Homo sapiens: one gene and its partners. The protein of the gene in region 2 interacts with the protein of the main gene of each other region in a biochemical or structural test. Each region holds a gene or a part of one and is shown on either strand. Other genes may lie near its edges. The genes, in order: CRYBA1, CRYAB and CRYGD.

Evidence for each region.
Region 1: the proteins of CRYAB (region 2) and CRYBA1 form a complex in vitro, tested with the Homo sapiens proteins (2 studies listed by BioGRID and IntAct, with this or other methods).
Region 3: the proteins of CRYAB (region 2) and CRYGD form a complex in vitro, tested with the Homo sapiens proteins (3 studies listed by BioGRID).

The regions. Positions count from the first base shown.
Region 1 is NC_000017.11:29,244,600-29,248,350, reverse strand, and holds the start of CRYBA1 (beta-crystallin A3), read right to left. Parts: upstream 1,493-3,751; 5' UTR 1,488-1,492; coding exon 1,457-1,487; intron 1-1,456. UniProt on the Homo sapiens protein: Crystallins are the dominant structural components of the vertebrate eye lens.
Region 2 is NC_000011.10:111,909,671-111,913,421, reverse strand, and holds the start of CRYAB (alpha-crystallin B chain), read left to right. Parts: upstream 1-1,651; 5' UTR 1,652-1,697; coding exon 1,698-1,898; intron 1,899-2,668; exon of another isoform or gene 2,669-2,972; coding exon 2,973-3,095; intron 3,096-3,751. Other genes in the region: HSPB2 (heat shock protein beta-2), read right to left, coding at 499-592. UniProt on the Homo sapiens protein: May contribute to the transparency and refractive index of the lens. Has chaperone-like activity, preventing aggregation of various proteins under a wide range of stress conditions.
Region 3 is NC_000002.12:208,122,431-208,126,181, forward strand, and holds the start of CRYGD (gamma-crystallin D), read right to left. Parts: upstream 2,095-3,751; 5' UTR 2,044-2,094; coding exon 2,035-2,043; intron 1,925-2,034; coding exon 1,682-1,924; intron 1-1,681. UniProt on the Homo sapiens protein: Crystallins are the dominant structural components of the vertebrate eye lens.

The DNA of each region.
Region 1 (3,751 bases), on a different chromosome or scaffold from region 2:
GAAACAATAATGCAGGTAAAGCACTGAGACCCTGTCCTCTCACTTGCTTTCAGGTGACAGCATTACCTCTGTCTGCAATATAAACTCTTTGGCAACCACCTAGGCCAGACCCCTCATGTGACTGGCCAAACAGCCAGCCATGCCAGGATCCCAAGCCCCAGACTCCCTCGTAACCCTTCACGGTCTCATCCTTATCTGGCCTCTTTCTGCTTTTCTTTTTCTTTTTTTTTTTTTGAGATAGAGTTTCACTCTTGTTGCCCAGGCTGGAGTGCAATGGCGCAATCTCGGCTCACCGCAACCTCCGCCTCCCAGGTTCAAGCGATTCTCCTGTCTCAGCCTCCCTAGTAGCTGGGATTACAGGCATGTGCCACCACGCCCGGCTAATTTTGTATTTTTAGTAGAGACGGGGTTTCTCCCTGTTGGTCAGGCTGGTCTTGAACTCCCGACCTCAGGTGATCTGCCCGCCTTGGCCTCCCAAAGTGCTGCGATTACAGGCATGAGCCACGGCGCCTGGCCATTCCTTTCTGCTTTTCTATCTCCTAGATCCTACCCAGCCTTGACCTTGCCTTCTCAGAGGCTTTCCTGCCTTCTCCAGCCCACAGCCACTTGCTTGCTTTCTTGATTTATAGCACTCATCACAGTACCAATCTGTGTTCTGGTTGGATGTCCTGGTGAGCACCTCAATGGCAAGGCCTCGGTCTTCTAGGGGATTGGTATAGCATCGTGCTGAGCACATGTGGAGATGAGGGATCAGGGGGACATTGAAAAAGACTTATTGAAGGAAAGTGAAGAAGAAAAGAGTTATAATACTTACACTCAAAAATGGCTATCTACATGTCCGGCCCTGTTTTAAATGCTTTACATGCATTCATGCATTTAATCTTCACATACAGACTATGAATTAAGAATTATCATTATCCCCATTTTACAGATGAGGATACTGAGGCTCAAAGAGGTTAGGTAGACAGTGAAGATGGTAGGACGAGTTTTAAAAAAGGAAGGACAGAGCAAGAAAGAGGAAGGAAAAGTGGGGGAGGAAGGGAAGAAGGAAGACAGGCAGGTGTGTATTAGGTTTCTTAGGACAGATATTCATGGCCCTCCTCCTGGCTGGTATTGGGCCCAGGAATGATGCATGTCAACTCTGTAATATATTTTTCCATTCTGAATCTCTGAATAAGCAACATTTCCCAGGTCCTGCTCCCATACCTTCTCCCTGCTCGTTTCTTGGGGGCCCATGCCCATCCCCCAGCCTTAGTTGCTAGGGCAGTGGTTATTGCTATATAAGTGACTCCTCTTGGGGTGACAAGAGAAGGCTGTCTTCCGCCAGAGTTCCCCACTCTTCTCCAGCCACCCTAGAAGGCTCTACACACTAGGCAGGAGAACTGGGCCCTCTCCTGGGCATGTCTCTGCAGGGCAAGGAGAGGAAGGGCAAGGGCACCCTGAGGGCCTTACTCACCCAGCTCCTGCTGCTCAGCCTGGGTCTCCATCTGGTACCACTTGCTCTGTGGCCCTCCTCTTTATAGCCCTGCGGCCTCTGGCCTCTGGCCCTGTCAGCACTCTGCTCTCCCTCTGCCTTTGTTCCTCATGATCCCCAGAGCTTTGGTGGCTCAGCTTGCTGGGGCCTTTGTTTAAACCAGGGATACAGAAATCCAGAGAGGCCCCTCTGTTGTGGGCATGGCTGGCTGCTGCAGGCCTTGGCTTTCTTAATCTCTCAGAGCAGCTAGGGGGTGAGGACAGAAGTCTCTGCCATGAGTACTTGTCTCTTGTCCTTCTCCAGGTTCCTCACACCACCTTGGGATCTTCCTAAGACCTTAAGACCCTGGGAGACCCCATGTCATATCAAACACATCAAAATGCACCTCACTTCCATACAGATGTGCATTTCTTGTTGTTTAAAAATGTGAAAGAATTATTGTAATTCTGAACTCAATATGAGAAAAAATGGTTCATTGTATTCTTGGGAATCTTTATTATGCTGTATTTATATATAACTATGTAAGGGTTGACTTCAATTATAGTTGACTAGCAGACATGTGTCTCTCTGTAGCTATTTTATTAAATATTCCTTTTAATTTTGCAATTTTCTTTAAAAATTTTGGAGCTATAACTTTTGGGTTTTTTAAAAAAGAATTAAACCATTTATTGAATAATTCCTATATATTAGACATGTGCTAAATGCTTTACTTAAAAAGTTTGAATTAAATACTTTTCCACAACAAAAGAAAGAAATACTTTTTCACAGCCACCACAACAGTGCTATTTTCACCTCCATTTTCCAGATTAAGAAACTAAGAGAACAATCAGGTGACTTGCCTAAGGTCACAGTATTTATAATGGCAGAGCCAAGACTCGAATCCAGTTCTAACCAACACCAAAGTCACTGCCCTGCACTGGCCCTCCCTCAGGAGTAATGCATAAATGGCCCAAAAAATTCCAGGAGAGGAAAGAGACCCCCCTGGCTAGAACTGCAGTTCTGAATATAAACACTGAGCATATAATGGATGTAACTTATCTGTTTCAAAAGGGGAAGGAGCCTAGAAATGAAGCAATTTTTCCTCCTCAAATGATCTTGGCTGCCTGTCCCTTTGTCTTCCATGTTAATTCCTTTCACCATTCTGCTCCCAAACAGGCCAGGTCCCACATCAGTTCCAGGAGGAAAGGGCTCTTTCAGCCTGCGGGTCATCGTTGGGCAGCAGTAGGAAGGGGAAGAAGGCAACCTTCTGAATACCTCCTTTGGACTCACCATCTAGATGTAAAGGGTTCACCTGCTCCATCTCAGATTCCCGGGGGCCTTCCTGTGAAGTTGTCTAGGCAAGCGGTGATAGGGACCTAGATGTCCTTGCTTCTCCCCTCTAGCTCACCCAGGCCAGGGGCGAGAATTCCTGCCACCCACACCTTCAAAACCAATTTTTTTTTTCTTTTTGAGACAGAGTGTCGCTCTGTTGCTTAGGCTGGAGTGCAGTGGTGCGATCTTGCCTCACTGCAACCTCTGCCCCCCAGGTTCAGGTGATTCTCCTGCCTCAGTCTCCTGAGTAGCTGGGATTACAGACACCTGCCACCATGCCCGGCTAATTTTTTTGTATTTTTAGTAGAGATAGGGTTTCACCATGTTGGCCAGGCTGGTCTTGAACTCCTGACCTCAAGTGATCTGCCTGCCTCGGCCTCCCAAAGTGCTGAGATTACAGGCGTGAGCCACTGTGCCCGGCCAATTTTGACGTTTTACTGAATTGTTTTAGGTCTTTGGAAATCTCACAGGCCCAAGTTACTATGCGTATAGTACCTTAAAGTGTAAAATGACTTCTCCCAGAAACTTCAGGACACTTGATGAAGGTAAGGTAGGGGAATCGTGGGCCTCCGCAGGGGCCCTGAAGGGGAAGATGTGTTCTGCAAGCATCACAGATATTGTGAGAAGCAAGAGGCTGCAATGGATGTGGAAGGCTTTGAGCCAGGCAGATGTGGGTTCAAATCCCAGTTTCCTGGCTGGGAGATTTGAAGCAAGTCACTCAGACTCTCTCAACCTCAAAAATAGAATATCTGCCTGATACATTGTAGGCTTATGACTCCTTACCCTACTCTCTTTCCAATGAAAGATACTATTGAAAATTTCGCTGGGCACGGTGGCTCACGCCTGTAATCCCAGCACTTTAGGAGGCTGAGGCGGGCGGATCACAAGGTCAGGAGATCGAAACCATCCTGGCTAACACGGTGAAACCCCATCTCTACTAAAAATACAAAAAATTAGCCGGGCGTG
Region 2 (3,751 bases):
CAAGAGGCAGGATGAGGGAGGATGAGGCTGGCACAGGGGCGAAATGGGAAATCTGGAGAGGAGGGATTGGGAAGAGCAAGAGGGGAGTCAGGAGGAGTAGGGAACGGGAGGGAGGCCACACTGTAGCTAGGAGGAGAAGGCAGCTCGGAAGAGGGGAAAGAGAACGGAAAGGAAAGGGAGGAGGAGGAGGAGAAGGAGGAGGAGGGGGAGGAGGAGGAGGCACCAAACGGCCTGGGTGGATAGAAGGGGGACAAGGAGGCACACCCAGGCCGGCAAAGAGCAGGTATCAGCACTGCAAGCACCAAGTGTGTCTTGAGGTCAGCAGGAATGGGAAAGATCTCTGCTTGGAGGGGATGAGGGGTAGTCTGGGGTGGGGGGTGGCTGGTCCCAGGAGATCAGTTAAGCCCAGAGTGGGGTGGAGGCCAGCAACGTTGGGAGGTCAGCCCAGAATTTCAGGGGGTGGGGGTGGGGGGCAAGGGGGTGGTGTCTGTGCCATACCTTCTCCGAAGCGCTGCTCACCCAGGCGGCTCGGGTTGGCAAATTCGTACTCGGCGGTGGCCGGGTGGGCATGTGGCACTGAGCGGCCCGACATGGCTGCAGATGCAGCAGAAGCCCTGGTCCGAGGTGCAGCCCCAACAGGCGCAGCGCGACCCCTCCAGCTGCCCGGAGAGCCAGGGCTCGATAGGAGGTGGGGGCGGGGTCGACACCACCCAAAATAGTGCCGAGCCTCTTGGGGGGGGAGGGGCTGGGAGTGGGGGCCCTGAGTGAGAGCAACGAGGGTGTGACCAGCGCCGCCCGGACCCCTAGTCCCCTCCCCCGCACACTCTTCAGCTGTCGCAGGGGGCCTGAGAGGACAGCTGAGGGTCCTGGCTGGGAACGAGCTGGGGAGGGGGAGCTGGTGGTGCCTGGGGCATGAAGAGGCCTCGCTGAGACCCTCACAAACGGTTTGCACGTTTCCACACCTCATTTTCTCCTCTTCGGTGGCAGGCACTGTGCACCCAATTCCTAAAGCACTCCTGGATTTAATGTTCTGAGAGCCACATAGAACGAAAGATGCAAGAAATCTGTTTGCTCTTTTTTCAGGGGGTGGGGTCTTTCTGCCCAGATGTGGGATCCTCTCCTAAACCCAGGTCAACCCAGGGCACGAGGCAGATGGCTGGTGCTGACATGTTGACCATCACTGCTCTCTTCCAAGGACTCACAAAGAGTTAATGTCCCTGGGGCTCAGCCTAGGAAGATTCCAGTCCCTGCCCAGGCCCAAGATAGTTGCTGGCCTGATTCCCCTGGCATTCAGGACTGGAAAGGAGGAGGAGGGGCACACTACGCCGGCTCCCATCCTCCCCCCACCCCGCGTGCCTGCTTGGGATTCCTGACTCTGTACCAGCTTCAGAGAACAGGGGTGGGGGTGGGTGCCATTGGGTGTGGACAGAAAGCTAGTGAAACAAGACCATGACAAGTCACTGGCCGGCTCAGACGTGTTTGTGTCTCTCTTTTCTTAGCTCAGTGAGTACTGGGTATGTGTCACATTGCCAAATCCCGGATCACAAGTCTCCATGAACTGCTGGTGAGCTAGGATAATAAAACCCCTGACATCACCATTCCAGAAGCTTCACAAGACTGCATATATAAGGGGCTGGCTGTAGCTGCAGCTGAAGGAGCTGACCAGCCAGCTGACCCCTCACACTCACCTAGCCACCATGGACATCGCCATCCACCACCCCTGGATCCGCCGCCCCTTCTTTCCTTTCCACTCCCCCAGCCGCCTCTTTGACCAGTTCTTCGGAGAGCACCTGTTGGAGTCTGATCTTTTCCCGACGTCTACTTCCCTGAGTCCCTTCTACCTTCGGCCACCCTCCTTCCTGCGGGCACCCAGCTGGTTTGACACTGGACTCTCAGAGGTGAGTCTCCCCACAGCTAGGACGGGAGAGTCCTTACTGGAACCTCCTGGAAACTTCTCCATCCATTTTCCTTTCCTACCCTGCCTAAACCATTTTAGGCACATGTGTGTCCAAATGTGAAGAAAAATGAGGAGGTTGCTAGTGCCTTCCTCCCCCATCACCTGTTTCTATTTGATAGTCCTCTGTATCCCATTTATTACATTTTTTCATGCACTGTCAAGTTTATCCTCCGTCCCCTAACTTCTCTACAGGATACCCCTTTCTGGTTTGGTTCATGACAATCTGCAGGGAAAGAGCTGCCTTCAAACTCCTTTGCTTATCTCTTCCAACACCTTGGACTCTTGACCGATTTTACCATCTCAGGTTTCAGAGCCAGGAGAGAGCCCTGCCTCATCCTGAGCTGTTCATCCCCATGGGTATTTTCTGCCTTTCTATTCCCTCTTCTATGATTTTCTGGGTTTCTCAGGGCTACGACAGGGCGCTGGCCTGGGTCCAATCAAGCCCTACGAGGAAACAATATAGGGACGCCCATTTGTCCTAAGAGGGTGGAAGAACAGGGTGAACAAATAAGGTTGACAGAGCTGTCACAGATAACACTCTGGTTTAAAAATATTCAAGTGTGAGTAAACAGGAGCTGAGTGGGCAAGGGCTTTGGAAGGACAAGCAGGACCAGCAGAACATTCCAGATTGGGTGGGTGGAAAACTGGCAAAGAGACCTGAGCCAGAAGAAGAGGCCTTTGTCTCACAGACAAACCACAAAGCCAGGCATTGGAGTCAGAGAGGCAGCAGATGCCAGGCTTGCACCCATCCTTGCGACTGGTCCCCTGGGTGATCTGTCTTCTTCTCTGTCCCTGTAAATAAAGTTTGGGTCTGATCACCATGAGCCTTAGGTATCACTGTGGTGGCTCCCTGAAGCAGACAGCTATGTTTATTTAAAAAGGAGATTTTTTAAGCAGAGAAGAGAAGGATGAATTACCCGGACAGAAAGCAGCTCTGCAGAATAAGACAGCACCTGTGTAATCAGTATTTTTGCCCTCTTTCTCCCATCCCATTCCCTTACCTTGCTATTTCTAGATGCGCCTGGAGAAGGACAGGTTCTCTGTCAACCTGGATGTGAAGCACTTCTCCCCAGAGGAACTCAAAGTTAAGGTGTTGGGAGATGTGATTGAGGTGCATGGAAAACATGAAGAGCGCCAGGTATGTAGCTTGTTTTTTTGTTTTCTGCTCATTCATTCAGTGCATACTGTAATAGTCCAGGTAGTGCTATCAGCTTTGGAGGCTGGCTACATTCCAGTCCCAAGCCATAACAGTCGGGATCAGGGGTTACAAATCAATGTCTAGAAGACTAAGTTAGGATAGACATATTGCTGTTGTTACTATTATGGCCAGAGATGTGGCCTTTGATTTGATCGCCTTAGATGGGATGATGGGATGCTGATGCCCCATTTAAGCCAGTGGTTCTGAATCTGGGCCACATTAGAATCACCAGGGGAACTTTCAAAAAACCTAATGCTCGGGCATACTCCAGACCAATTAGCATATGTGCTGCCGAAGCGAGCACTACTCCAGACCAATTAAATCAGCATTTTTAAGGGTGGGACCCAGGCATCAGCAATTTTTAAGGTAATTCTAATCTACAGTCAAGGTTGAGAACCACTGATTAGGTATAGGGCTGTCAGACACCTAGTTGCTTTGCATAATTACATTAACTACAGGTACCCTAAAAGCACTTGAGTTGTGACTTCTCTTTTAGCTGTGCAAGAATCCGTGTCTCTTCTTTAGCCCATCTTAATGCTGAACTACTTGGTTTGTCTAAATTTCAGAGCTGTGCTCAGTCTTTAATCCCCTACAGC
Region 3 (3,751 bases), on a different chromosome or scaffold from region 2:
TAAAGTTAATCATATTTTATTTTAATAATTATATTCAAATTATATTTTATAAGTATAAATTAAAATTATATTTATTTTACAAATTATATTTTATTTTAAAATAACTTTACTAAAATATAAATAAAATATATTTAAAATACAGAAATATAAGGGGTGGGGCAGTGGCTCATGCCTGTAGTCCCAGCACCCTGGGAAGCCGAGGCAGGTGGATCACTTGAGGTCAGGAGTTCAAGACCAGCCTGACGAATATGGCGAAACCTTGTCTATACTAAAAATACAAAAATTAGCCAGGTGTGGTGGCGGGTGCCTGTAATCCCAGCTACTTGGGAAGAAAATTGCTAGGGCCCAGGAAGCAGAGGTTGCAGTGTGCCGAGATCATGCCACTGCACTCCAGCGTGGGGAACAGAGCAAGACTTCGTCAAAAAAAATAATAATAATAAATAATAAAATAAAATAAAATAAAAATAAAAATACAAAAATTAGCTGGGTGTGGTGGCGTGCTCCTGTAACTCCAGCTACTCAGGAGACTGAGAGACGAGAATCATTTGAATCCAGGAGGCGGAGGTTGCAGTGAGCCGAGATTGCACCACTGCACTCCAGCCTGGGCGTCAGAGTGAGACTCTGTTTCAAAAAACAAAAACAAAACAACAACAACAAAAATATATATATACACACATATAATGTAAATGAAATATATTAAAAATATATTAAAATATATTTAAAATATGTTAAATATATTTAAAATATAATATAATTTATGTAGTTATATAAATATATTAAATACATATTTATTAAATAAATATATTATTAAATACATTATATTCATTAAATATATTTAATGTAAATATATTTAAAATATAAAAATATGTATTTTAAATATAAGTATTTAAAATATATTAAATATATCATTTAATATATTGAATTAAATGATAATGCATCATTTAAATCAATGACATAAATAAAATATGTTAAATATATAAGCCTTCTATTCAAAATATAAGTGTTTTAAATATATTAAAATATAAATATTTAAAATATATTAAAATATAAAATGTTAAATATCTTCATATATTAAAGAACAATTAATTCTAAGTCAATAACTTGTGAATGCAATGAAGAAAAATGGAGGAAGAAACATCAGTAAGTCCAAGGACGAATTTTGCATAAACTTTAGTGTTCTAACACACATATGGGATAAAAGGGACACATGTGTAAAATATGTGTGTTGCTCTCCTTTGAAGGAAAGTCTTACTTATATAGGTTGGGAAAACCCAAAATATGCAAGAGAGGAGCAAAAACGGGAAAAAGTCTCAAAAGAAATTACCCTGTTTGCTCAGTAACTGCTGTACGCTCTAGCATTTATTCTTCTATTGGGTATTAGTGGTTTTTCTACAACTCCATTCTAAATGATTCCAGAATAGGACTTAAGTCTTATACAACCCCTAGGGCAGGAGACACATTCCTACTCAATACATATTTGTGGATTAATTGTGATTAACTGGTGTCTGGGTAATACTTTGCTTATGTGGGGAGCAAACTCTATTGACTTAATCCACTATAGTTCATCTTTTGTCCACTCTCAGTTATTGTGACTGATCACTACTTCTAATGTTTAACTTTTGCTTGAAACCATCCAGTGAGTGTCCTGAGGGCCTGGGTCCTGACTTGAGGATGTACTCACGTGGGGGATGAGGCGGCAGGAGCGGACCGAGTCGCTGAGGCCCATCCACTGCTGGTGGTCGGCATAGTCGCCGCGGCGCAGGAAGTACTGGAGGCCCGAGTAGTTGGGCTGCTCATAGAGCATCCAGCAGCCGCTGTCCACGCGCGCCGAGTTGCAGCGGCTCAAGTAGGGCTGCAGGTTGGGGTGGTCGCTGCTGCATTCATAGTGGCGGCCCTGGAAGCCCCGGTCCTCGTAGAGGGTGATCTGCAAGGCAAGGCGGGACAAGGCGAGGTCTCACAGGCCTGCTCCTGCCCCAGTCTCTGGCCCCCGCGATGGAGGAAGCTCCGGGGTCCCGGGGCGCAGGCTGGGCTCACCTTCCCCATGGCTGGCTGGGCGCACGGCGGTGCTGAGCTGGTGGGGCGGCGGCGCTGAGCGGGTGGGGCTGCGGCGCGGCGGGCTATATAGCAGGAGGGCTGCTGCGTTGGCAAGAACCGCACAAAAGGGGCCCCCGGAGGGGAGCAAGGGCATTTTCGTGTTCTCTTTTTTTCTCTTTGCTGTGCTAGACCACGGGGCTTGTTGTGGGTTTTGGTCGCATTCTCTCTGGAGTATTCGGATTGCTATCACTGGCTGATGCTATTGAGAATGTTTGTAAAACGGCAATTTGGGACATTGTCTATTTATAATGGAAGTGGAGCTTCAGCTATTTCACATATAGTTCACGCTTTTATTCGTATAGATTGGGGAAAAACAAAAAAAATTTAAGTCGGGGAGCAAAAAAAGCAACGACTCTTAATAAGGCAAATATAAATTAATCTGTCAGAACTACAGTATTACTTACGTGCCACAATATTGAATACTGATTGTTAATAGGAAGGAAATGGGCTTAACTGAATGTTGAAAATTTCAAGTTAGTCCTTTAAGAGAACGTCATCATGAAAGGGTGTAAGAAATTGGAACATTTTATTAAGAGAGTTCACAGAATTTCGAACTTTTATTATGGTAAAACACACAGCAAACGTGAATCTTCAATATTGGGTCTGATTTTGTTGCAATTATGCCTGGAAGTAGCTGAGAATTAGATGTTTTTCTCTTAGCTAAAGGTGGTGCCGTGATTCAAAAGAGAGAATAGTTCTAAGATGCTTAATCTCAGAAAGAACTAAAAAGGGAAATATCTAAGTTTGAGGAAATTAGAAAAAGTAATATGTTTGAAACACAAAAACATGATCTCTTAGCTTGTTATAAAATAAAACCAAATTCCTAAGAAACTTATTTCTGGTAGGATCTAGAATACACCTTTGCCCTCTGAACGAGCGAGAGTACACAAGGCCTTTGACTCAGACGAAATTAATTGCATGAACACAAAGGGGAGCTATGGCTGGAATGATGCAGGGAGAGGAAGGAATAAAAATCTAGAAGTTGGACTCGAGGAAGACTTCAGAAAGTACTTATTGGCCTGGAAGAGAGCAGTTTGATGGACTGGGAAGAGTACTGGAGTGGAATATGACCTATGTGTCCAGCTTCTTTCATGTTCAAAGAATTGCTTACAGCCCTGTGTCAACCCATGGAAGTACTTTGTCTTGTCTTTGAGTCATAAATCTTTGTAAGTGGTATTTATGAATTAAACACCAACTATGTGCAATACAAATTATTTTAATTCTTATTTTCTGGCTGCTTTTTTTTTTTTGTATTCTTTCTATATAGAGCTCTACGGTGGTAGGGAAATACCTTTTTCTTTTGTTTTGTTTTGATTGTTTTCTTCATCCCCATTGCTACATATAGCAGGCGTATGGTAGGTGCTCAAAAATTGGTAAGGATCCTAACTCAAGGAAGTTAAGAGTCTCTAGTGGCTAATAATTGGAGGCTATTGAAATGGAAAATAAACTTGTGGCTGGGTGTGGTGGCTCACACCTGTAATCCCAGCACTTTCGGAGGCCAAGGTGGGAGGGTCACTTGAGCCCAGGAGTTCGAGACCAGCCCTGGCAACATAGTGAGACCCCTTCTCTACAAAAAAGTGAAAAAATTAGTCAGGCATGGTGGTGCGCGCCTGTAGCCCCAGCTACTTAGGAGGCTGAGATGGGAGGATCGCTTGAG